Homo sapiens: one gene and its partner. The protein of the gene in region 1 purifies or fractionates together with the protein of each later gene. This does not show direct contact. Each region holds a gene or a part of one and is shown on either strand. Other genes may lie near its edges.

What was found. Proteins that work in one complex are often made in the same cells at the same time.
Region 2: the proteins of PISD (region 1) and PPP6R2 purify together in Homo sapiens (co-immunoprecipitation; one large-scale study listed by IntAct). This does not show direct contact.

What each region holds. Positions count from the first base shown.
Region 1 is NC_000022.11:31,621,104-31,624,215, reverse strand, and holds part of PISD (phosphatidylserine decarboxylase proenzyme, mitochondrial), read left to right. Parts: intron 1-366; coding exon of another isoform or gene 367-532; intron 533-2,330; coding exon 2,331-2,567; intron 2,568-2,684; exon of another isoform or gene 2,685-2,743; coding exon 2,744-2,882; intron 2,883-3,073; coding exon 3,074-3,112. UniProt on the Homo sapiens protein: Catalyzes the formation of phosphatidylethanolamine (PtdEtn) from phosphatidylserine (PtdSer). Plays a central role in phospholipid metabolism and in the interorganelle trafficking of phosphatidylserine.
Region 2 is NC_000022.11:50,346,327-50,349,826, forward strand, and holds part of PPP6R2 (serine/threonine-protein phosphatase 6 regulatory subunit 2), read left to right. Parts: intron 1-3,500. UniProt on the Homo sapiens protein: Regulatory subunit of protein phosphatase 6 (PP6). May function as a scaffolding PP6 subunit. Involved in the PP6-mediated dephosphorylation of NFKBIE opposing its degradation in response to TNF-alpha.

The DNA.
Region 1 (3,112 bases):
GGGCCCAGGTGCTTGGGCCTGGAGGCCCTTGCTGGGAGCTGCTGCAGCTGAGAGGTGCCCCGCAGCTGGGCCTGACTCTCCTCTTGCGGCTGCCCCCACATTCCCAGTCCTCCCCAGCTGGCTGGCGGGTGGGAGAGCCTGGGAAATGAGTCCGCTAGCCAGAGGCAGCCAAGCCCCTGAATCAGAATGGGGTTGGGACGAGGGGGCACAGCCAGTGCTTGCTGGGCTCCATCACCCCCATGGAGAGGCAGCTTGCCAAGGGTGGGTAGACAGGAGGAATCCTGCCCTGGGTGCAGGTGGCAGCCTCCTGGGTCCTGCCCAGAGCCTGGCCACTGACCTGGCTGTGCATGGACCTGTGCCCTGCAGGTTGCACTTCCCCCAGCTGGCCCTGAGGCGGAGGCTGGGGCAGCTGAGCTGCATGTCCAGACCCGCTCTGAAACTGCGCTCCTGGCCCTTGACCGTCCTCTACTACCTCCTGCCCTTCGGCGCCCTCAGACCGCTCAGCCGGGTGGGATGGAGGCCCGTAAGCAGGGTAAGTGTGCACAGGCCCCTGTGGCTCGGACCTCCCTTCCGGGCAGGCCTGAGGTTGGGGTGCAGGAGAGACTGAGGTGGTGGCGAGCTGTCAGAAGCAGAGGTCACCGCTACATCTTCAGGGGGTCCGGGTCGGAAGGTTCATTGGTGGGCAAGGCCAAGGCAGCTTTTGAGAAGGCCACTACCTGGGCCGCGGGTGACTGCGAGGGCATGTCGTGCCCTGCCCACTCCCCTAGCCTGCCTCATGTCTGCCATTTGGGGCTCTGGTTCTGGAAGGAACCCAGTCTGGGGATTCAGAAAATGGTGTCTGTCTCTGATTTTTCTGTGTTCAAGCAAAAAAGAGCTTATAGGTGATTTTGAACAGAAGCCAAATTAATTCCGGGATGCCAAAGGGGTGGTTCAGGATGGATGGATCCTGTTTGGGTCCCTTAGGGTGAGGACACCCTTAAGGAACCCAGAGGCATGCCCCAGGAATGGGCAAGGGAACTGGCTTGTCCTCTCCTGGTCCCTAGAGGGCTTGCTCTTGCCCTTGGCTTCCCAGGCAGGTTGACCCCAAGGAGGAAACCCTGTTCCTGGGCCTTTGACAGTCACATGGGTGTCATCAGAGCTCAGGGGCACTGAGGCACCCTGGACATTAGCCCAGGCTCCCACCTGTGCCTGGGAAGGGCCTGGGCTCACATAGCCCTTCTGTGTGACTGGGCATCAGCTGGAAGGGATAAGAGCAGCTCTCTGGGAGCTTACCTTACCTTGGAGAGGTGTTGAAAGTTGGAATGAAATCAGTTTTACACCTTGGGGAGTTGGTGTCTTGGTTGTGTTTAGAGAAGCAGCAGCCACCAATTACAGGCAGCTTCTACAGTGGCAGCAGCACCTGAAGTTTAAGAGGCTGCCCCTTCCTGGGTACCTGGCCCTGCCGGAGAGCTCTGGGACCATCTAGTGGGACCCAGTGCTTGTCCCCAGGCCATCGTCTGTCTTAGGTGCTCCAGGCTTCCCTGAAGGAAGAGAGAACAGAGGGGCCTGAGGGGATGACTTCTCTTTGCCTCCTGGGAGGAACCCCAGGTGCAGATGGCTTTATGGCCTGGCTCAGTCACAGTAGAACGTTGAACACAAGTCCTGCCGTGGGGCCAAGGTGGGGCTCAGCAGGGCTGGGCTTCTCAGACTGGCTGCATCCAGGCCCTCAAGAGTGCTGGCTGGACCTGTGGGGGCTGCAGACCCTGTGTCTGCAGCTCAGGCCCAGGTGACAGTGACATCGCAGACCTGCATCTGAAAATCCCTGTTGGTGCTCAGGGTATCCTCCTTCTTCCTGTTAAGACAGAGGGACACACTTTGGGCTGTAGACTTGTTCCATGCACTTGGGAGCCTCCTCCTTTGGTGGTCTGGGATATGGGCAGTGACCACGGGCAAGATGCCCACCACCTCTCCACACACTGTGATATTGGGGTCACCGTGGCTAGGGTCACACACTGTGGTTAGGATCAGATCCGTTTCCGACCCCCACTTTAAGAAGTAAGACTGCTGGGCGTCTCCCGTTCTGGGACTGGAGCAGTTGCTATTTGACTTTTGCATGAAATGATGAAATCCACTGGAGTTGTATGTAAATCCAGCACTCCGTGTGGCAGGTGCAGTCTGGTTCCCAGTGAGAAACAGCCACATCACAAAAGCAGCGTGGGGCACCTGGGCCCTGGTGTCCTCCGTGGGGTGCAGATTCTCCCCTGAAGTGAGAGCTGGGCTAATGACACTACTTGGGCTCTCTGGAGCTGGGGCAGTGTGGTCAACTCAGCCCCTTGCCCTGTGGCCTGCAGGTGGCTTTGTACAAGTCAGTGCCAACGCGCTTGCTGTCACGGGCCTGGGGTCGCCTCAATCAGGTGGAGCTGCCACACTGGCTGCGCAGGCCCGTCTACAGCCTGTACATCTGGACGTTTGGGGTGAACATGAAAGAGGCCGCTGTGGAGGACCTGCATCACTACCGCAACCTCAGCGAGTTCTTCCGGCGCAAGCTGAAGCCGCAGGCCCGGCCTGTCTGTGGCCTGCACAGCGTGGTGAGGCCTGACCCTTTCCTCCTGCAGGAAACAGGACTTTTTCCTGCCTCCCCAGCACAGCCCCCCTGGTCTCCAGCGTATCTGGAAGGGGCAGGATGACAAGGGGAGGTGGGGGCTGTCTCCTGGGGGGAGGAGACCCTGCTCTCCCTGGCAGCAAGCCTCTCCTGCCCTTCCAGATTAGCCCATCGGATGGAAGGATCCTCAACTTTGGGCAGGTGAAGAACTGTGAGGTGGAGCAGGTAAAGGGGGTCACCTACTCCCTGGAGTCGTTCCTGGGCCCGCGTATGTGCACAGAGGACCTGCCCTTCCCACCAGGTGGGTCACTGCACAGGCGGGGCTAGGCAGCCCTGCTGCTGTGTGGCTGGACCGGGAGGGAGGGGAATGCTGGGGAAGGAACTGAGGCTGGCATGTGGGGCCTCCCTGAGAATCCATGTGCAGACCACACTCGGGCTCCGTGCTGGGTGCTCACTGTGTTGGTGGCCCCCACGTCTGCTCCTACTCCACAGCCGCGTCGTGTGACTCCTTCAAGAACCAGCTGGTCACCC
Region 2 (3,500 bases), about 19 Mb from region 1:
CCCCCCAGTCAGTTCCCCCCGCAATCAGTTCCCCCGTCAGTGCCCCCTCCAGTCAGTGCCCCCCAAATCAGTGCCCCCAGTCAGTGCCCACTCCAGTCAGTTCCCCTCCAGTAAGTGCCCCCCAAGTCAGTTTCCTCCCAAGTCAGGGCCCCCTCCAGTCAGTTCCCTCCCAGTCAGTCAGTGCCCCCCCAGTCAGTGCCCTCCTTCTGTTCCCCCACCCTACACCAGTCAGTGCTTCCTGCACCAGTCAGTGTCCCCTGCTAGCTAGTCATTGCACCTCACCCATCAGTCCCCACCCCACCCATCAGTGCCCCCCACCGTCAGTCAGTGCCCCTTGCAAGTCATGCTCCTCCTGTCGGTCAGTGCCTCCGCATCTGTCAGTCCGCGCACTGGTCAGTGCCTCCACTGTTGGTCAGTGCTCCCCCACCGTCAGTCCACTCTGCTCCCCATCAGTGTCCCCCAGTCAGAGTCCCGCATCCCTGTCCCCCGTCAGCCAGTGCCCCCCCAGTCAATTATTTTCTTTCTGTCATGTCCCCACTTCCCATCAGTGCCTGCACCCCCACCCGTACCCGTCAGTCACTGACCGCATAATCCCTCCCCTGCCAGTGCCCTTCCTTGTCAGTCCAAGCGCTCTGTGACCCCTTCTGTCAGCAATGTCCCCACCTGTCATTGATCTTCTCTGTCAGTGCCCCCCATCAGTGCCAGTGCCTCTGTCAGTGAGCCCCACTGTCAGTAAGTTTCCCTCATAAGTGTCTCCCTCATCCTGCCTGTTGTGGCCCTTCCGCTCTTTGCTATCGGCCTCTGTGTTAGTGCCTGTCAGATCCTCCCCATCAGTTCTCCCCTGTTGTCAGTTCCTGTCCCCTTTCATGCTACCTCCTTCATCCCTTATCTGTTAGGGACCCATTAGTACCCTGCCCTGCTGTTAGTGACCCCACCTGTCAGTGTCTCCCCACTGCTTCTCTCCTGCCTGTCAGTGGGAGAACTTTCAGTGCCCGCTGTCATCACCCCTCTTGTCCAATCACTGATTCCCCTTTCCATTATTTCCTAACCCTTTCCAACACTACTCGTCTTTTCCTGTCGCGCTCCCCATCACGGCTTGAGATATCACCAGTCATCTAACCTCACCTTACCCCGCACTGCCCTGTTGCTTCCATCCCCATCATCTCTTCCTTCAGCCTGTCACCTTCCCCCATGCACCGTACTGTCCCCCGACCTGCCACTCTGTGTACTCGCAGCTTCCCTACCTGCTTTGTCCACTCTCTTGTTACTGACTCCTCCCAATTTGCTGCTCATTCCCTGACCTGTCAGCACCAGCTCCCCCAAGTCTGTCACTTCCATTTAGTCCCTGCCTTTCACTGCAGCCCCCTCTTTGTCACTGTACCCACTGATTTTGTTCTAGACCCTTCTCCTGTGTCTTGTTCTTTCATCCACCCTTCCCTCATGGCCTCTCTCTGCCCTGCTCTTGGCTTCTCCTTGCCCCTGCAGTTGCCGACACTGTTCACTGTTCACTGAAAGAGGCTCTTCACCTCTTTTTGATGTCCCTTTTTCTGGTTTATCTTCCCTTTGTTTTTATTTTTTACTTTAAAATGTTGTGGGTACACAATAGGTGTATATATCTCTCCCCTTTGACTTTTCTAACTCACTTCAGTTAATCTTTGGAATGTGAGAGGCAGCTAGCTTTGAGACAAATTGGGGGACAGAGTCTCCCATGCTGAGAGGACAGCACATGCAAAGGCCCTGAAGTGGGAAATTTTGGGTGTGATATCCTCCAGGAACCTAGATAAGACTGATGTGCTTATGGTAAGGGAGAGAGAGGCAGGAGCCTGGGCTGGAAAGTTGGTTTTCTCATTAAGCCGTTCCTTGCAGGTGTTAGTAGGGAGTTGGACCTTCAGTCTGAGTTGTAGGAGAAACCTGGCCTGGAGATTGAGTTGGAGAGTGCCATGATCATATGGACATTGGCACGTGGACAGCAGGTGGGGGTGAGATGAAGTGTTGGGAGCTGGGTGTAGTGATTGTAATGGTTTAGAACTTGGTGGTGGGTTTAGGGAGATATTTTGGAGGTAGAGCTGTTGGGACTTGTTGGTAGATGAGAAGAGAGGTGTGAGAGAATGAATGGACTCAGGGTAATTTCTGGGCTGCTTTTATCCTCCCAGCCCCATCAACCCTTCTAGGCTTTCTGATGGAACAAATGGGTGGATAGTAGCACTGTTTATTGAAATAGGGAAGCTGAATTAGGGTGGTGTCAGGGCTGGGGGTGTTACTACAGTTTGGAAGTAGAAAGCAAGGCTTTCTCTTGGCTGAAAGTAGGGGAAGTCTGAGAAGTCCGAGGGTCACTAGGGAGAAGGTATCTTACAGGAGGGTCTGGAACCCAGAGGAGAGGCCAAGCCGCAGGTATACAACTGTCATCATGGGGGCAAGGTATAAAGCCTTGGGGATGGCTATTTATTTAAAAGCACATGGGCTGGGTGCGGTGGTTCACGCCTGTAATCCCAGCACTTTGGGAGGCTGAGGTGGGAGCATCACTTAAGGCCAGGGCAGCCTGGGGACATGACAAAACCCTATCTCTACAAAAACAAAAAGCAGGGCCGGGCGCAGTGGCTCACGCCTGTAATCCCAGCACTTTGGGATGCTGAGGCGGGCGGATCACCTGAGGTCAGGAGTTCGAGACCAGCTTGGCCAACATAGTGAAACTCCATCTCTACTGAAAATACAAAAAAAACTAGCCAGGCATGGTGGTGGGCGCCTGTAATCCCAGCTACTCAGGAGGCTGGGGCAGGAGAATCGCTTGAACCTGGGAGGTGGAGGTTGCAGTGTGCCGAGATTGTGCCATTGCACTCTAGCCTGGGCGACAAGAGTGAGACTTCCTCTCAAAAAAAAAAAAAAAAAAAAAAGTTGGGCATGGTGGTGTGCGCCTATAGTCCCAGCTGCTCGGACACTGAGGTGGCAGGATCACCTGAGCCTGGGGAGGTCAAGGCTGCAGTGAGCTGTGATCACTCCATTGCACTCCAGCCTGGGCGACAGCGTGAGACCCTGTCTCAAAAAAAAAAAAAAAAAAAAACGGGCTGGACGTGGTGACTCGTGCCTATAATCCCAGCACTTTGGGAGGCTGAGGCGGGAGGATCACTTGAGGCCAGGAGTTCTAGACCAGCCTGAGCAACATAGTGAGGCCCCATCTCTGCCAAAAATAAATAAAAGCACACCCACAAAAGCAGAATGTGGCCAGGCATAGTGGCTCATGCCTGTAATCCCAGCAGTTTGGGAGGCTGAGGCAGGTGGATCACCTGAGGTCAGGAATTCGAGACCAGCCTGGCCAACATGGTGAAACCCCGTCTTTACTAAAAATACAAAAAATTAGCCAGGCGTGGTGGCATGCGCCTGTAATCCCAGCTGAGGCAGGAGAATTGCTTGAACCCGGGAAGCGGAGGTTGCAGTGAGCCAAGATCACAACATTGCATTCCATTCTGGGCAACAAGAGTGAAACTCCATCTTAAAAAAAAAAA